Linked DNA regions of Homo sapiens: region 2 is linked to region 1. The links come from fine-mapping of genetic effects on gene expression. A gene starts in region 1. The other region holds a variant in brackets. All regions are shown on one strand. Distances are from middle to middle.

Region 1 (10,305 bases):
TAGTGGAGACGGGGTTTCACCATGTTGGCCAGGCTGGTCTCGAACTCCTGACCTCATGATCCACCCGCCTTGGCCTCCCAAAATGCTGGGATTACAGGCGTGAGCCACCGCACCCGGCCGTATTACTGACTTTTTAAAACTTCGCATAGTTACTCTTACTCCAAAAAAGTTCTCATGTTCCAAGGGTACCCTTTCCCAAACATTCATTTCCTCTTGCATTTTTAAATTTGAATACAAAAGAAGTGTCTGAACACTTGTCAAAGTGTATGAATACAAAATCTATTCATAAGACAACTTCAATCCAAAAGTTAACAGAGTTCTAGGTGAATATCCTACACTCAGACCACTGCAAATAATTAGAATATGTGTTGTAGATAGTTTATCTTCATATTTATAAAGGTTAGTGCCTACCTGGCTATCACTGATGAGGGTATTAAAAGAAACACTGCGTAATGCTCCCTGCTTTTCCTCACAATCGCTCATCTCTAAATATGTATTTATTCATCTGTAAGATAAGCATTTACCTGCTACATGCAAGCCATTACACTAGATGCCATGAAGTACACACAAATAAACAAAAATGTGGTTGTGTCCTCAAAAAGCTTGCGACCTCACTGCTGATATATCGGTCCATGTGCTAAAACCTGCTCACTTGCAAATATGAGTGTATATAAAATAGAGTCAGCATAGGTTGTTATGCTGAGGTAACCAATCCAAACACCTTTGTGGCTTACAGCAAAGGTTTATTTTTCACTCAATTTATATTTTATAAAATCTTGCAATAAGAATCAGTTTCTGCTTTGCACTATGTAGTCTACAATCCAAGATGTGGGCTAAAACAGCAGACCCCACCTGGAGTACACCTACCTCACATCAGAGGGAAAAGGAATATGACAAAACACAGGAGAGCTCTCAAAGCTCCTGTTTGACATGGTATATCATTTCCACTAACATTTCACTGGATAAAGCAAGTCATTTGGCCAGTGGTTTTTGGATATGTAATCCTGTTGCAGACAGTGGTAGTGAATACTTTAAACAATAACACAATCTATCACAATACTTACAACCAAGATTAAAGAAATGAAAAACATTCAGGCCATTCAAACCAATAATAAAATTACCATTTATCTAGGGAAGGCTTACTATATGCCGACATTACATATTAAAATATTTAATTTTCCGGCTGGATACGGTGGCTCATGCCTGTAATCCTAACACTTTGGGAGGCCAAGGCACACGGATCACTTGGGGTCAGGTGTTCAAGACCAGTGTGAAACCCCGTCTGTACTGAAAATACAAAAATTAGCTGGGCGTGGTGGCAAGCACACCTACAGTCCCAGCTGCCTGTGAAGACTAAGGCAGGAGGATCACCTGAGCCCAGAGGGTGGAGGTTGCATGAGCCAAGATTGCGCCACTGCACTCCAGCCTGAGCAACAGAATGAGACTCTGTCTCAAAATATAATAATTATTTTCCTAACAAAAATTCAACGAAGATGTCTGCTACTGATGAAAACTAAGTATGGGCATTTGGAAAGAGGAAAAGAAACAAAACAAATAAACCTATCAGAAAACATATTAGAAATCTTTCAAGCTCTCAAACTTTGGCTTGGATGTGTTACAAAGATAGCAAAAATAGCTGCCCCTAGGAGAGGAATTTATTTAGTTTATCTGAAGTAGAAGTGAACCTATTGGTCTTAAGTGTCCTAAATTTGAGCTTAGCCTATTTCCCAGCAAGGTGTTAACAAACAGAATTCTTGTCAACCTTAAGGACTGCTTACTATTTGGAGGGTTCAAATTCAATTCCCCATCGAATTGAAGACTCAATTTCATGCTAGCTTATATAATGCTGAAGAACCAAACACAGCAACAGAATAAAGCCACAGATCAGGGCATAAAAGAGACCTCACAAACAGGTCCCAAACACTCAGTCCCCACCAGTCATTAATTAAAACCCTCTGGGTGATTTAACACCCTAAGGACTTGTTTGAGGAAAACACAAGACCTAGTAAATACTAAGGTGAGATAAGTATACATGAACACACTTAAATAAGTGAATAAAAACATCACTGCATCAAATATCTTAAGTATAGCTATTTTGAAATAGAGTGCCATTTCATCTGGCTGATAAATGCATTTAGAATAGTTAAATTTACCCTGGAAAATCTCTTAGGAAAGTCAGGGAAAGTAAGGATAAATGTAGACAACTTAGGGATGGGCGCGGTGGCTCCCGCCTGTCATCCCAGCACTTTGGGAGGCCGGGGCGGGTGGATCACCTGTGGGTAGGAGTTTGAGACCAGCCTGGCTAACACGGTGAAACTCCATCTCTACTAAAAATAAAAAAATTAGCTGGGCGAGGTGGTGGGCACCTGTAATCCCAGCTACTCTGGAGGCTGGGGCGGGAGAATCGCTTGAACCCGGGAGGCAGAGGTTGCAGTGAACTGAGATTGTGCCACTGCACTCTAGAATGGGTGACAAGAGCGAAACTACATCTCCAAAAAAAAAAAAAATGTAGACAATTTAACCCCTTTTTTTGCCTCCTCACATTCGGTACAGGGAAATGAGAAGCACATGGAAACTGAGACCAACACTACAGCACAAGCTCAGTAAGTAACTAGATCAGCTCAATCACCCACATTACTAGATTTTTTCTCTCTTGTGTGTATGTGTTGTTGCATTCTTTGTTTTGCTTTTCACTGATGATATACTATAATTGAATTAATATGTTAATGTAGCAGCTAACAGCATCCTTCCTTTTCTTTTTTTTTTTTTTTTTTGTTTTTTTGAGACACAGTCTGGCTCTGTTGCCCAGGCTGGAGTGCAGTGGCGCGATCTTGACTCACTGCAAGCTCTGCCTCCCGGGTTCACGCCATCCTCCTGCCTCAGCCTCCTGAGTAGCTGGGACTACAGGCGCACGCTGCCACGCCTGGCTAATTTTTTGTATTTTTAGTAGAGACGGGGTTTCACCGTGTTGGCCAGGATGGTCTCGATCTCCTGACCTTGTGATCTGCCCGCCTCGGCCTCCCAAAGTGCTGGGATTACAGGTGTGAGCCACCGCGCCCGGCCCTTCCTTTCCTTCAGTTCCCTACTCCACTCCTTACCTTACTGATTCCACTTCCCATATTCTATTCAAATGATCTGAAATGTTACATGATTTGCAAATGTTTTTCTAAGCATTACAATAAAATGAATTTTAGATGTAGATTTTCCCATTAATTGGTTCTTTCTACTCACCTTTTTCAGATCCTCATTACTATCAAATCATAATGGAAAAAGAATGCTTAAGGATGAAGAACAAACAATATGTAAGGGAGAGGGTCTATAAATTTCCCTCAAATTAGGATGAACATGACAAGCTCTTAGGGTAAAAATGTGGCACAGAAAACAAATAAATGTGTTAATTTGTATTTAAAAAACGTCTTCCCTGGCATTAAGATTTTTTTTCAAGATTAAATGATTTATTTTCAAATCTCTTACATTTGCAGGCAAAAACTCTTAAGTTTGGATATGTAGTAACAATTATCATCAGAGTTTCAAAAATCTAATCTCAACTTCAATTACTATAATTGCTGACAAAATGGCTTTGACTTAAAATTACAGCCATGTTTTGATTAGCCATAAACCAGTGGTCCCTTCAAACTTGTTTTCAGTTCTGGGGCTACCATGAGTACATTATTATCTGGGAATGACAATTAATCCCTATAATCTGTACGGGAGGAAGGGCTAATCTTGGTCACCGCTATATTAACTCTAAGTTAACCAGTGAAGTATTTTACCTTAGAAAAATACTTAACCCAGCCTGACCAACATGGTGAAACCCCGCCTCTACTAAAAATACAAAAATTAGCCAGGTGTGGTGGTGCGCGCCTGTAATCCCAGCTAGTCAGGAGGCTGCGGCAGGAGAACTGCTTGAACCCGGGAGGCGGAGGTTGCAGTGAACCAAGATCACGCCATTGCACTACAGCCTGGGCGTCAGAGTGAGAATGTATCTCAAAAAAAAAAAGAGAAAGAAAAAGGAAAAATACTTTCCATATATGGAACACTTAATTACAAACATCATTTGCCTTTCCCCAATCTTAGCACCCTTACTTTTGAGTGACTCTATTCTATGTATTTAGTAATCGTTTAACTAATGCTTTCAAGCCTTTTCATAAGCCACGGACCCTACGGGACACTCTCTTCTTTCCCACCCAACACCCACTATATTTAAACCTTAATAAAACTCATCCTTAAAAATTCTTCCGAATTAACTCATCCTAATTCTCTGCATTCCATTTATATTTAACACTAAATCAATTAGCATTCTACTAGACCTTCCTTTCAACTTTTAACCACTTGCATCCACCTCCTACCCCCTTCAAATCTCTCCATCCAGTCTTTCCAATCTTTGTTCTAATATGTGTGTGTATGTACGTATAGCATTAGTACTATAATTTAAAAAACTCCAGGAAATTCTGAAAAATAGAAAATGGAAGGTTAATACAGCCAAAAAAAAAAAAATCATCACAAAAATGCTTCAAGGAAAAACAGTAACAACTCAATCAACTGACAACTGAATCTGACAATACTTTGGAAAAGTACTACTTTAGGTTCTCAAGGACGCAAAGAGCCCTCAACAACTCAATTCAATCCCTGAATTATTGTGAGGCTTTAACAAAATCCCTAGAAAACCTCCAGGCATTACCACCAGCCTTTTAAAAATTACCTTCCAATATTACTAGCAGTGATATTTTTACTAACACTGAATTCCAAACAAGTTTTCCTCCCAAGCAGACTGATGAATAAACAATCTTCCTATGCAGAAACCAAATTAAAACCACTTAAAACCATGGAAGGGATACAGTGATTTAACCCTTCTGTAAGGACTGGAGTGGTGGGCAAACAGGTGACAAATGGAAGGGATGCAGAAAGTGGAAACAGAAATCAGTGAGACTCCTCCCCTTCTCTGAGGGCTAAGGTTCAGCTTGCAGCTCCGGAGGCAAAACCTCCACGGACCCTCTCCCTCAGCGACAAGCCGAATACGAAAGCTTCCAGAAAACCACAGGTCCTCCTCCCCGGCCTCGCACTCACGCCCTCACTCGCCTGGCCAACGCCCATTGATAGCAGACAGTCCCTAGTCCGCCCGACTTCTCCCGAGAAAAGGGTCAACAGAGGACGCCTTCCCCGAGGCCTCCTCCGGAACTCAGCCAGCAGAGACTCCGCAAAAATGGAGGGACCCAAGAAGCTTGAAGAAAAGTGTGAAAATTCTATTACCTGGTCGGAACCCTGGAAACGGAAAGGGCAGCTACAGCCACTGCCCTTCTCCGCCACAACGTCTGCCTCAGTACCACTGACATTGACACCGCCGCCATCTTGCTGCAGGCAAACGCCAGGATGAAAGGACGGATCACCGCAAGGGACTAACTTCCTTCGTTCTCAAGCCAGTGCAATCGCAATGTTGCGAAATTCTTTGGGATTTTATTTTCTTTTTAATACTGGGGCTTAAAAAAAGAGGGGAAACGCTTAGTTTAAATAAGTAAGAAGAAAAATGTGCGGGAAGAAATGCAGAAGTGCATTAACTGTAAATATTACCACCATAAAGTGTAATCTTTACTGCTTGTTAGGACTGGTGTTTTACAATGATAACGAAAAGACCAAAATATACTTGCATATTTAAACACCTGCAACTCGTAATTTATTGAAGAAATTAGGATATTTGGGGCTGAACCCACTGGAAAAGCTGGAGAGCTCTTTGGGTCCTTGAGAACCTGCAGTAGTACTTTTCCAAAGTATTGCCAGATTCACTTTGCAAGCCCTCAGGACAGGGCTGTATTCAGTTTGATATTCTGTAGTAGTAATGTTCGTATTTTCCAAACGAAAAATCTGGATACGTGATCTGGCAAAGGATTATTTTTTGACATGTAGATTTATATGAAGAATCAATAGAACATAATATTTGATGTCACTGTTTCCCCAGTAAATCCTGAATGTGTGTGTGTTCATAATCCATAGACATGAAGAATGATATTAATGCTCCATGCATATAAAACAAAAATTATCTTCCAATACAAGTGTTGGAAACATGTTTGTATTGTGGACTTCCGACCTTAAAGAATAATGACTAACTGAATTATATAAAATAAAAAGCAGGTTAGTTTTGGGTTTTGTTTTTTAAGAAATTTGTTTAAAGAGTTAGTACTTTCCTGCTTTTAAAATTAAGCACATGAAAACATAACCTTCATTAAATAAATAGGAACAATAGGAGGATGGGGAATGACATAGTTTGGCATTATGGACCGTTAAAGGAAAACCCAGTACATAAGGGAAAGGGAGAAAGAAAGAGAAAAAGTCATACTCAGGGAAAGAAATGCACAAGATGAAGGAAGGCAAGGGAGAGATGCCTCAGAGAAAATTTTCTTTCAAACTTTTCATTTTGAAATAGTTATAGATTCACATGAAGTTGCAAAGATAGTACAGATGTCTTGTGTACCTGTTTCCCCCAGTGATTACATCTCGTATAACTCTAGTACAGTATCAAAGCCAGGAAACTGGCATTGATATAAAGTATTTGTGTAGTCCTATGTCATTCTACTACATATTTTGTGTAACCACCACCATGATCAAGATACAGAACTATTCCACCCTCACAAAGATCTCCCTAGTGCTAACCTTTTTGGTAACACCTGCCCTCCTAACCCTAGTGATCTCTGTTTCTGTTTTTATAATTTTGACATTTTGAGATGTTATATGAATGGACTCATGCAGTACATGACCTTCTAAGATTGGCTTCTTTCACTTGGCATAATGCACTTGAGACCCATCCAAGTTGTTGTGTTTATCAATAGTTCATTCCTTTTTTATTGCTGAGTAATATTCCATGACATGGATGTACCACAATTTGTTTAACCATTCACCTATTGCAGAACATTTTGATTGTTTCCCATTTGGGGCCATTACAAATAAAACTGCTGCAAACAATTGAATACAGGTTTTTATGTGGACAAAAATCTTCATTTCTCTGAGATAAATGCCCAGGAGTGCAATTGCCAGGTCATGTGATACATGTATGTGTCATTTTTTAAAGAAATTAAAAACTGTTTTCCAGAGTAACTGTAACATTTTACATTTCCTCCAGCAATGTATGAGAGATCCAGTTTCTCCATATCCTCACCAGCATTTTCTATTATTGCTATTTTTGTTTTAGCTGAGCTAAAGTAAATAATAAATGTGCAGTAATACCTCATCACAGTTTTACATTTATTCCCCTGGTGGCTAATAATGTTGAATATCTTTTCATGTTTTTATCTGCCATCTGTATATTCCATTCAGTTAAATGTCCTTATGTCTTTTGCCCATTTTCTAATTAGCATTATTTGGTTTTTTACCTGTACATTTTGAGAGTTCTTCATATATTAGATGTGTCTTTTGTCAGATGCATGATTCACAAATATTTTCTTCAATCTGTAGTTTGTATTTTCATTCTCTTGACAAGATCTGCCACAGAACAAATATTTTTAATTTTGATGAAGTCCAGTTTATTCATTTTTTAAATTTATGGATTGTGCTTTTGCTGTCATGTCTGAGAACTATTCTCTAATCCTGTATCCTAAAGATTTTATCTTGTTTTCTTTCAAAGGTTGTTTTAGTTTTGCCTTTTACATTTAAGTCTATGTAATTTTTGTGAGTTAAGTTTTCCATTAATAGGTGTGAGGTTTAGGTTCAGGTTTTTGCTTGTGGCTATCCAATTGCTCTAGCACTACTTATTGAAAAGTTTATCCTTCTTCCATGGAGTCCCTTTTGCACCTTTGTCAAAATATCAGTTGGCCATACTTGTGTGTGGCTATTTCTGGGTTCTCTATTTCAGAGAGAAATTTTAAGCCCAAGGGTGGCTTTGGTGTCTGGGTGAATTTTAATAAAGATTTTCTATGTGAAGGAATAATGGGATGTGTCCCAGTGTTCATAAGAGCAACTTCCTATAGCCCTGTTACTGGCCCTACCAACCAAAGCTCAACCTCTCCACCTAACACCTATTCTAGTCCCCAACTTCCATGGATCTGAATTCCCCAGGAAAGCCCCCGGTCTCTAGTCTCTTTGTCTTTTGTACAGCCCATAATCCAACATCAGCATTGCCAGAACCCTAGTGGAATCTTTGATTCCCTTCACTTTCTGCTGGATTCCCTCAGCTGCCCATTCCTGAGGTCCTTTCTGACCTTATATACAGGATATAGGTGTTAGAATGGAACAGAAATAACTTGGTATGTTCATTTATTTATACTATTTCACCTATACCACAGGCTGTACCATTAAGCTTAATAGAATGTCTAGGTCCAAGTGCCATTTTGTTATTTCAATGTGCTGCCCCAGAAGTTGTTAACTACTAGAGTCCACTTCTTTGCCTCTTCTCTAGTCATCCTCCTTGCCCTTCAGATCACAGCTGTGAGTCACATCCTTCAGAGTCACTCCCCATGGTAGAAACTACGTCTTACAGGCATTTTTCACCTCCGCCATCCTTGCTGACAGAGCCTGACTCCTATGATAGAGACTAAAGTTGCTGTATATTGGCTTTCCCATTAGCTCCTGCAGCTAGCACATGAACATGTCCAAAGCCAACAGGATCTGAAATCCCTTTTGAGAAAAAAGACTTCTGAAAAAAAAAAAAAAAAAAGACATACAAGAAGAAATACCTCTTTTCCTGCGTCTGAATGCAGTTATATGAGGACATAATGCCTAGAACTGTGGCATCTTCTGAACTAGAAGGGACAAGCATAAGAGCTTAGCTAACAAGAAGGGGTGGAGGAATAGAGAGAGGAAAAGAGCCTAGGGCTTAGTTGACATCATTGAGCCAATCCTGAACCGACTTTTAAACCAAACCTGATGAAAATACCTCCAAACTTCCTGTTACATGAGGTAATAAATGACTTAATTGTTTAAACCTCCATTAGTTAGATATTCTGCATCCAAAAACATCTTTTCCTATGCTCTTACATGAAAAATACTTCTCTGACTTCCCTTTATGTCAGCTCTTTCTGTAGACTCTCCTAGCATCACATCTTCCTTCTTCGTAGCACCTCTCATGTCTCAGTTTTAATACACTATCATTGTCACTTTCTCTACAATGTAAAGTAAGTTATCTGAAGACAAGGATCATATCTGATTTTGATTATCATTTTCCCAGTATCTAGCCTAGTCCCTCACATATAGCAGCCTCCAAAGGATGTATGGAATAAGTGAATGAAAGTAACTGGAACTTTTAAAATGTCAAAAAAATGAAAAAAAACAGTGCTATCTCTATTTGCTATTTTGCTTAGGAAAAGCTCATACAAATTAATGTGATTGCTGTCTTGGGTCTATAGATCTTATTGGTTTCTAAAATTTCATCTTTGATCAGTTGCCATTTCCTGAAGAACTTGGTGAGATATTGGGGACAGGAGCTCCACGTTGCTGGCAAGAGATCGGAAAAGATAAATTTACCTTTTACTGGGCTTGCATTAAAAAAATGTAATAACCTCTTTCATTTCCTTTTTTCTTACATTTCAAATAAGGATATAGACCTGAGAGTGGAACAGAAATAATTTGCTGTGTGCATTTTTTTATAACTTCAACCAAACTATGCATTCTACCAGTAAGCGTAGTAAAATGCCTATGTCCAAATACCATTTTATTATTTCAAATAGGAGTATTAAAATGTAAATTGACTTTACTTTTTGCTTGCACTTCATCCATGATTGCCAAATGAAACATTTATCTTAGACTTTCTGATGGCATGTGAAAGTTACAGTGGATCCAAAGTTGTCTGTTTTTAATTTTTCCCCTTGCACATGGGTCTTTAGTAAAGCATCCAGAAAAAAATAAATTAAAACCAGACATTTCTATCAGAAGTTTCACATACAATCACTATAGACATGACAAAATTCCACCATCACTTTATTGGCTGCAAACTAATTTTTTTATCACATCTCATTTTTCACTGCTAATTTATTTGAAAAACTTAATACCTTATCATCTTATAAAATTATCATGACATCTAGCAGTGCAGCTGAGGCTTTGGCAACAAATGAAAGAATTTCTACCTATAGTGAAGATCTGTCACTTGAAATTATTTTTGGAAAACAAGAGGTACAAATAATCACATTCTTAAGAACTCAAGGAGTTTTCCCACATAAATTTCAGAACATACTTCATCACCCGCTGGAGTTTCAGCCCTAAATTTTCAACTGCACATAGGTCATTCTCAAACTTAACATATAGAAAACCAAACTAATTCTATTTCACCCCTTTCTCTTGCCCCAAGAAAATCTGTTCTTCCCCTCAGTATCTCTGCCTTGGCAA
Region 2 (10,305 bases), 180 kb before region 1:
TTCTTCTTTATTTAAGCTAGGTGGGTTGTATTTTTCCAGGAATTTTTCCATCACTTCTAGGTTTTCTAGTTTATATGCATAAAGGTGTTCATAGTAGTCTTGAATGATTTTTTGTATTACAGTGGTGTCAGTTGTAATATCTCCTGTTTCATTTCTTAGTGAGGTTATTTGGATTTTCTCTGTTCTGTTCTTGGTTAATGTTGCTAATGGTCTATCAATTTTATTTATCTTTTTAAAGAACCAGCTTTTTGTTTCATTTATCTTTTATATTTTTTGTTTCAATTTTATTTAGTTCTGCTCTGATCTTGGTTATTTCCTTTCTTCTGCTGGGTTTGGGTTTGGTTTGTTCTTATTTCTCTAGTTCCTCAAGGTGTGACCTTAGATTTTCTGTTTGTGCTCTTTCAGGCATTTTGATGTAGGCATTTTGATGTAGGCATTTAGGGCTATGAACTTTCGTCTTAGCACCACTTTTGCTGTATCCCAGAGGTTTTGATAGGTTGTGTCATTATTGTCATTCAGTTTGAAAAATTTTTAAATTTCCATCTTGATTTCATTTTTGACCCAGTGCTCATTCAGGAGCAGGTTATTTAATTTCCATGTATTTGCATGGTTTTGAAGGTTCCTTTTGGAGTTGATTTCCAGTTTTATTCCACTGTGGTGTGAGAGAGTGCTTGATATAATTTCAATTTTCTTAAATTTACTGAGGCTCAATTTATGACCTATCATATGGTCTATCTTGGAGAAAGCTCCATGCACTGTTGAATAGAATGTGTATTGTGCAGTTGTTAGATGAGTTCTGTATATATCTGTTAAGTTCATTCGTTCCAAGGTATAATTTAAATCCATTGTTTCTTTGTTGACTTTCTGTCTTGATGACCTGTCCGGTGCTTTCAGTAGAGTATTGAAGTCCCCTACTATTATTGTGTTGCTGTCTATCTGATTTCTTAGGTCTGTTAGTAATTGTTTTGTAAATTAGGGAGCTCCAGTGTTAGGTTCATATATGTTTAGGATTGTGATATTTTCCTGTTGGACAAGGCCTTTTACCATTATGTACTGGCCCTCTTTGCCTCTTTTAACTGCTGTTGCCTTAAAATTTGTTTTGTCTGATATAAGAATAGCTATCCCTGCTTGCTTTGGATGTCTGTTTGCATGAAATGTCTTTTTCCACCCCTTTACTTTAAGCTTATGTGAGTCCTTATGTGTTAGATGAGTCTCCTGAAGGCAGCAGATAGTTGATTGGTGAGTTCTTATCCATTCTGCAGTTCTGTATCTTTTAAGTGGAGCATTTAGGCCATTTACATTCAATGTTAGTATTGAAAATGTGGGGTACCATTGCTTTCATCGTGCTTTTTGTTGCCTGTGTACTTTGGTTTTTTGTTTTTGATTTTTAACTTGTATTTTTGTTTTATAGGTCCTGTGTGATTTATGCTTTAAATAGGTTCCATTTTGACGTGTTTCCAGGATTTGTTTCAAGATTTAGAGCTCCTTTTAGCAGTTCTTGTGGTGGTGGTTTGGTAATGGTGAATTCTCTCAGCATTTGTCTGAAAACGACTGTATCTTTCCTTCATATATGATACTTAGTTTTGCTAGATACAAAATTCTTGGCTGATAATTGTTTTGTTTGAGGAGGCTAAAGATAGATGCCCAAGCCTTTCTAGCTTGTAGGGTTTCTGCTGAGAAATATGCTGTTAATCTGATAGGTTTTCCTTTAAAGTTACCTGATGCTTCCGTCTCAAATCTCTTACGATTCTTTCCTTTGTCTTGACTTTGGATAACCTGATGACAATGTGCCTAGGTGAAGATCTTTTTGCAATGAATTTCCCAGATGTTCTTTGTGCTTCTTGTATTTGGATGTCTAGGTCTCTCATAAGGCTGGGGAAGTTTTCCTCAATTATTCCCCCAAATATGTTTTCTGGACTTTTAGAATTACCTTCTTCCTCAGGTATACCAATTATTCTTAGGTTTGGTCATTTAACATAATCTCAGACTTCTTGGAGTCTTTGTTCATATTTTCTTATTCTTTTTTCTTTGCCTTTGTTGGATTGGGTTAATTCGAAGGCCTTGTCTTTGAGCTCTGAATTTTTACTTATTCAATTCTATTGCTGAGACTGTCCAGAGCATTCTGCATTTCTAAAAGTGGATCCAAAGTTTCCTGAATTTTTTATTATTTTTTCTTTAAGCTATCTGTTTCCATGAGTATTTCTCCCTTTGCTTCTTATATCATTTTTTGGGGGGTTTCCTTGCATTGGGCTTCACTTTTCTCTTGTCCCTCCCTGATTAGCTTAATAACTAACCTTCTGAATTCTTTTTCAGGTAAATCAGGGGTTTCTTCCTTGTTTGAATCCTTTGCTGGTGAACTAGTGTGATTTTTTGGGGGGCATGAAGAGCCTTGTTTGTCATTTAACCAGGGTTGGTTTTCTGGTTCCTTCTCATTGGGATAGGCTCTGTCAGAGGGAAGGTCTAGGGCTGAAGGCTGTTGTTCAGATTATTTTGTCCCACGGGGTGTTCACTTGATGTAGTATTCTCTCCTTTTTCCTATAGATGTGACTTCCTGTGAGCCAAACTGCAGTGTTTGTTGTCTCTCTTCTGGGTCTAGTCACCCAGTGAATCTACCTGGCTCCGGGCTGGTACTGAGTGTTGTCTGCACAGAGTCCTGTGATGTAAACTGTCTATGGGTTTCTGATCTGTGGATACCAGCGCCTGTTCCAGGGGAGATGGTGGAGTGTGCAGTGGACTCCATGAGGGTCCTTAGCTTTGGTGGTTTAATGCTCTATTTTTGTGCTGGTTGGCCTCCTGCCAGGAAGTTTTTGCTTTCCAGAAAGCATCAGCTATAGTAGTTACGGAAAGGGACCGGTGGTGGGCAGGGCCCTGGAACTCCCAAGATTATATTCCCTTTGTCTTCCACTACCAGGGTGGATCGGGAAGCACCATCAGGTGGGGACAGGGCTAGGCATGTCTGAGCTCAGGCTCACCTTGGGTGGGTCTTGCTGCAGCTGCTGTGGTGAGTGGGATGACATTCCCAGGTCACTGGAGTTGTGTACCTAGGAGGATTATGGCTGCCTGTGCTGAGTCATGCAGGTTGTCAGGAAAGTGGGAGAAAGCTGACCGTCATAGGCCTCACTTAGTTCCCATGCAAACAGGGGCCAGCCTCACTACCACCATACCCTCAACCCTGCCTGCCAATAGCCCCAAGTCTGTTTCCAGGCAGACTTTGAACATATTATCCCATTCTGCTGGTCTGCAAGGTTTCTGTTGAGAAATTTGCTTAGAGTCTTATGGGGATTTTGATTGCATGAAATGAATTGCTTTTCTCTTGTTGCTTTCAAAATTCCCTCTGTCATCGACCTTTTTTTTTTTTTTTTTTTTTTGAGATGGAGTCTTATTCTTCTGTCACCCAGGCTGGAGTGCAATAGTGTGATCTTGGTTCACTGTAACCTCCACCTCCCAGGTTCAAGTGATTCTACTGCCTCAGCCTCCTGAGTAGCTGGGATTACAGGTGTGTGCCACAACGCCTGGCTAATTTTTGGATTTTTAGTAGATATGGGGTTTTGCCATTTTGGTCAGGCTATTCTTGAACTCCTGACCTCAAGTGATCTGCATGCCTCAGCCTCCTGAAGTGCTGGGATTACAGGCATGAGCCACTGACTTTTGACAATTTGTTTATAAAATGTCATGCTGAAAACTTCTTTATGGTCAGTCTATTTGTAGTTCTTTTGGATTCATAAATCTAACTGTTCATTTCCCTCCCCAAATTTGGTAATTTTTTTGTCATTATTTTTAAAAATAAGCTTTCTATTCCTTTATCTTTCTTTGCTCCTTTTGAGAATCCCACAGTGGATATGTTGGTCAATTGATGGTGTTTCATAAGTTCCATAGGCTTTCTTCACTGTTTTTCATTCTTTTTCACTTTGTTCCTCGACTGAATAATTTCAAATGACATGAATTTAGTTAGCTGATTCTTTCTTCTGCTTGGTCAATTCTGCTGTTGAAACTGTTGTATTTTTTAGTTGAGTCATCGTATTCTTCAGCTTCAGAGTTTCTGTTTGGTTCTTTATTATTATTATTTTTTTGTTAAAGAAAATTTTTCGTGTATTGTTTTCTTGATTTCTGTAGTTGCTTATCTGTGCTCTCTTATAGCTCACTGAACTTTTTTTGTTATACTTTTTTTTTACAATTCAAACTTTATTCTTTAAATCAAAAAAGTAAAGGAAAATTACAACATTAAATCCTAGAATAAAATATTTGATGATTATACATACAAAATAGCATAATTAAAAAATTCTTAGTAAAAGGGAAAAATTCTGCAAATATACTAATCAACAAAAACATTAGAAGTATTTCAATAAAGTTAAAAGAGGGAGTGGACTGGCCTCTCACAATTCACTACTGTGTGAGATGTCTGAGTGGGGACCAAAACAAGGAAGAGAAAAAAAAACCAGGAAAGAAGCTGATTCAAAAACTCTGATTTGTAGTTATTCACAGAAGACATGGATGTTAACTAGAAAAGCAAGAAAATATATTTTACTCTCAGAACATGAACTGTTAGAATAACAACATCCAGAAAATTGGGTAAATGCATGGTCAAAATACTACTCTTCAGTAGTAATAATGGATAAACAACAAGAATAACAACAGCATAACATAGACAATCAACATCTATCTTGATTAGCAAATATACCAAAAAAATACATTTTCTTTTTTTTTCATTTTACCTAGTTCTTTTATCTCCTTTTAATATACTTTAAGTTCTGGGATACATATGCAGAACGTGCAGTTGCCACAGTGGTTTGCTGCACCCATCAACCTGTCATCTACATTAGATATTTCTCCTAATGCTATCCCTTCCCTAGTCCCTCACCCCCTGACAGGCCCTGCTGTGTGATGTTCCCCTTCCTGTGTCCATGTGTTCTCATTGTTCAACTCTCACTTATGGGTGAGAACACATGGTGTTTGGTTTTCTGTTCCTGTGTTAATTTGCTGAGAATAATGGTTTCCAGCTTCATCCATGTTCCTGCAAAGGACATGAACTCATCCTTTTTTACAGCTGCATAGTATTCCATGGTGTATATGTGCCACATTTTCTTTATCCAGTCTATCATTGATGGGCATTTCGGTTAGTTCCAAGTCTTTGCTATTGTGAATAGTGCTGCAATAAACATATGTGTGCATATGTCTTTATAGTAGAATGATTTATAATCCTTTGGGTATATGCCCAGTAAAGGGATTGCTGGATCAAATGGTATTTCTGGTTCCAGATCCTTGAGGAAGCACCACATTGTCTTCCATAATGGTTGAACTAATTGACACTCCCACCAACAGTGTAAAAGTATTCCTATTTCTCCACATCCTCTCCAGCATCTGTTGTTTCCTGATTTTTAAATGATCACCATTCTAA[C/T]GGGCATGAGATGGTATCTCATTGTGGTTTTGATTTGCATTTCTCTAAGGACCAGTGATGATGAGCATTTTTTCATATGTTGGCCGCATAAATGTCTTCTTTTGAAAAGAGTCTGTCTGTTCATATACTTCGTCCGCTTTCCAATGACAAAAACCACATGATTATTTCAATAGATGCAGAAAAGGCCTTCAATAAAATTCAAAACTCACTTCATGCTAAGAACTCTAAATAAACTAGGTATTGATGGAACGTATCTCAAAATAGTAAGCGTTATTTATGACAAACCCACAGCCAATATCACACTGAATGGGCAAAAGCTGGAAGCATTCCCTTTCAAAACTGGCACAAGACAAGGATGCCCTCTCTCACCACTCCTATTCAACATAGTTTTGGAAGTTCTGGCCACAGCAATCAGGCAAGAGAAAGAAACAAAGGGTATTCAAATAGGAAAAGAGAAGTCAAATTGTCTCTGTTTGCAGATGACATGAGTGTGTATTTAGAAAACCCCATCGTCTCAGCCCAAAATCTCCTTAAACTGATAAGCAACCTCAGCAAAGTCTCAGGATACAAAATCAGCATGCAAAAATCACAAGCATTCCTATACACCAATCATATACAGAGACCCAAATCATGAGTGAACTCCCATTCACAATTGGTACAAAGAGAATAAAATACCTGGGAATATAATTTACAAGGGATGTGAAGGACCTCTTCAAGGAGAACTACAAACCACTGCTCAAGGAAATAAGACAATACACAAACAAATGGAAAAACATTCCATGATCATGGATAGGAAGAATCAATATCATGAAAACGGCCATACTGCCCAAACTAATTTACAGATTCAATGTTACCAATGACTTTCTTCACAGAATTAGAAAAAACTACTTTAAATTTCATATGGAACCAAAAAAGAGCCCACATAAGCCAAGACAGTCCTAAGCAAATAGAACAAAGCTGAAGGCATCAGGCTACCTGACTTCAAACTAAACTATAAGGCTGCAGTAACCAAAACAGCATGGTACTGGTACCAAAACAGATATACAGACCAATGGAACAGAACAGAGGCCTCAGAAATAACACCACACATCTACAACCATCTTATCTTTGACAAACCTGACAAAAACAAGCAATGGGGAAGGATTCCCTATCTAATAAATGGTATTAAGAAAACTGGCTAGCCATATGCAGAAAACTGAAACTGGACCCCTTTCTTACACCTTATATAAAAATTAACTCAAGATGGATTCAAGACTTAAACATAAGACTTAAAATCATGAAAACCCTAGAAGAAAGCCTACCCAATACCATTGAAGACCTAGTTATGGGCAAGGACTTCATGACTAAAACACCAAAAACAATTGCAACAAAAGCCAAAATTGACAAATGGGATCAAATTAAACTAAAGAGCTTCTGCACAGCAAAAGAAACTATCAGCAGAGTAAACAGGCAACCTACAGGATGGGAGAAAGTTTTTGCAATCTATCCATCTGACAAAGGGCTAATATCCAGAATCTACAAGGAACATAAATAAATGTACAAGAAAAAAAGCTCACTGAACTTCTTTAACATGATTATTTTGAATTCTTTTTCAGGTAATGCATAGATTTTCATTTATTTGTGGTCAGCCACTGGAGATTTATTTTGTCTCTGGTGGTATCATGTTTCCTTGATTTTGTATGTATGCTTCTGGAAATTTGCACTGCTGTCTTGGCATTTGAAGTAGTCACTTCCTCTAGTCTTTACTGACTGGCTTCAGGAGAGAAATATCTTCTCCAGTCAGCCCAGCTAGAATCTAGGGGTTTCTCATACCTTTTACCTGGATGTGCTTACTCCACTACTCCTTTGTTTTCTCTTGAAGGGGGCATCTTAGGATTGTGTGCTTTCTCTCAATATTGCAAATCTAATAGGGTGCTGAAAGTCTCCTGCTTATTTATCATAGGACAGTGCCCTTGAATGTTTAAGGTTTTGTGCTTTTTTCCAACTAAGCAGAGTTGAGTTATCAGCTTATATCCATGTGAATTCTGTGGAGAATTGCATGCAGTGGTTATGGGGAGAAAGAAAGTGGTGCACAATGCTGGGGACACTTGTTGGCTAGTTAGTAGGAGGTGGTCTCCCAATAAGGTGTCTAAGAGCTTGTGGTTAGGCTCTTAGGTCCATGTGTCTGTTAGTAGAATCTGTGCTGATTCTTGAGATCTGCATGCTGGTTGCTATGATTCCCTGTCCATTTTCACTGCTCCTAGTTGTCTTCAGATGATTTAGCTATGTTGATCTCAGTGTTCTGGGTAGACAATACAGAAGTGGGTCTCTTGAACAGTATGTCATAAGACTGGGGAACTTGGGCACTTATTTCACTCTCTTTCCCAAGAAAGAAATTGTAGATTAAAGGGGTCTGTATTGGCAGAGTTGTGCTACCTGAAGGAGGAGTGATGCACATAAAGTGAAACTGTTCTTTTTACCTTCTATGCATCTATACTTGGATTTTTTGGCTCCACTAGGGTGGTGGAACCTCTGAGCTGGACTATGTGCATCACATAAACATATTATTCTCATGGGTAGGTTGTTCAAATCAGTGTTTCTGTGGGGGCTTGAATACAGGAACCTCCTATTCTACCACCTTCTAGATGTCACTTCTTTGTTTTAAATAGTGTCCCTGCTTTTTTCATGTTCTGTTGCTAATAAAGTTAACCCTGTCGGGCAGGGTCAAGGAGCTGCCACTCTTACATCATGCTATGTCCATCCTGGACAGACCTGTCACAACACAAGGCAGAGCCATGAGGGTAGGAATGAGAGCTACTGCTCTTCCCAACCTGCTGCAGCCTCTCCTGGAGTGACACCTGTGTGCTATGTCTGGAACTGCTGAGGGAGGATGGTAGCTACCAGTCCTCATGGCCTGCCCATCTGCACAGTATAGAATTTCTGCAACATGGAGATGGAGAAGATAGGAGCAACCCCTGGCATGAATGACACAGACTCACACTTTTCTTACTGAGATGCAGCAGATTTTCTGAGCAGATGTTTTTCAATTTGTTACATGCCCTGTGGTCAGTTTCTAGAGACTTTATTTTTTATTATTAATTAACTAATTTATGTATTCATCCAATTTTATCACTGTTTCTTTGAGAAGAGGATCTGTTAACTTTCTCATATAGGCATTTCAGAATTCCTGCTTCCTAATTAAATCTTGCCTATAATGATCACAAATTTCTGATTTTCCAATTCTAGCATTCTTTCTGTATTTACCACTCAGGATTTGGCATTTTACAAGCAAGAGCCCTCATCTCTTCCCCATTGTTTATCTCTATTTATTATCAGTATAGATTCATGAGTTCTTATTTTTCACTCCAATGGTTTATATTTTGTTACTGTACAGAAATTTTTGTTTAATTTTTTCAGATTTGACAAGTGGCAGCCCCTTTAATTTGGATCCTGTGTTCTTGTTCATTATCCTTTTGTAATGTGTTCTTGCTTTCTAGTATATCAAGATGTTCTAGACTGATCTCATATTTACCCTGCCCTAGCCCTAAGCTCAGTCATTTTTCTGAGAAGCTTTAATTCATTTCAGGGAGAGAGGATATTACAGATCAAGATCTTGATGCTAAATGTGCTATAGTCATGCTGAAGTGTCTTTGCTCATGCTCTTAAGTGGACAAAATTAGGAAACTTATGTATATGTAAATATACAAGTATACAGACACGCATAGACATATTTTAGAAATGGGTTTACATTTATTCCTCCGATTCCAGTTCGCCCCACAAAAGTTATTTCTTTCCTTTCCATGTTCCATATTAGTTTGTCCCTTCTTCTTCAGTAAAAACTCTGAATCTTAACAATATCAATACATTTATTCATTTGCTCAATCTTATAATACATCCAAATTTGTTTCAGAATTTTGTTGCCCGTACCACTATATTTTAAAATGCTACGAAAAAGAGTTAAGGATTTGTTTGAAATTCTCTCCCACTATCCCACCCAATCCAAGACTAGGTAAAAAGTAAAATAGTGGGTTCAAAGTAACTAGGATAAATTCATTCTTTTTTTCCTCTTCATTGTGGTTATGGTATTCATTTAAAATACATGCGGGACCATTTGGTCCAGTTTGCTTTACATTTTAGGACTTCTTTTTTCTCTTCTCACCCCTATTGATTTAATTTTTTAAAAAACATGTAGAACATTAGCATGCTTCCAAGAATCAAAATAATACTAAAAGATATATTTGGAGAGGTATCACTCACTCCCATATCCCTTCTGCATGTTTTTCTCCCATCCCTTTAGTAGGTAAAGGGTTTCATTGTTTTCTGGTTTTGTCTTTTTGTTACACAAAAGGCAACATTAATATGTAAGTATGTATATATGTGTGTGTGTGTATATATATACACACACACACATATCTGGGTCTCTGTGTGTATGTATATATGTGTGTATATATACTGTATATGTGAATATCTTATATACAGTGTGTGTGTGTACATATATATAACGTCTTGTACTTGTTCTTTCAGTAAGCAATGTCTTCTAGAAATCATACCATATCAGTTAATATGAAATTTTTTCTCATTCTTTTTTAAAAGCATCTATATAATACCCAGTTGTGTGGATGTTCCATAGTTTATTCATACAACTTCTTATGCTTAGATATTTAAGTAGTTCCCAACATTTTTCAATTACATTAATGCTGTAATCAGTTTGTGTATATGTATGTATTTTTATGTTTTCTGGAGGTGTATTTTAATATGTATTGGAGTTGTATCTTCAAGATAAATTCTTACAAGTATTATTATAAGTGCCTACAAGTATAAGTCTAAGAATATACATAGTTTGTTATCATTTAGCATTCTCACCAACAATGTACAAGAGTGCCTGTTTCTCTATAGCCTAAACAAAAGTATATTGTCGAGCTTTTGAACTT

Evidence for each region. PIP is the estimated chance that this variant, and not a neighbour inherited with it, causes the effect.
Region 2: its variant is fine-mapped to the expression of NDUFS4 in whole blood (TOPMed, PIP above 0.99).

The regions. Positions count from the first base shown.
Region 1 is chr5:53,555,706-53,566,010 of GRCh38, reverse strand. NDUFS4 (NADH:ubiquinone oxidoreductase subunit S4) reads right to left here and starts at 5,372. Exons shown (of 5, transcript NM_002495.4): 1 at 5,251-5,372. The coding sequence starts at 5,348. RefSeq lists an enhancer at 4,971-5,470.
Region 2 is chr5:53,732,011-53,742,315 of GRCh38, reverse strand. No RefSeq gene overlaps it. Among named protein-coding and RNA genes, the nearest start is that of LINC02105, 83 kb to the left of the region's middle. The variant C/T (reference allele first, on the strand shown) is at 5,396.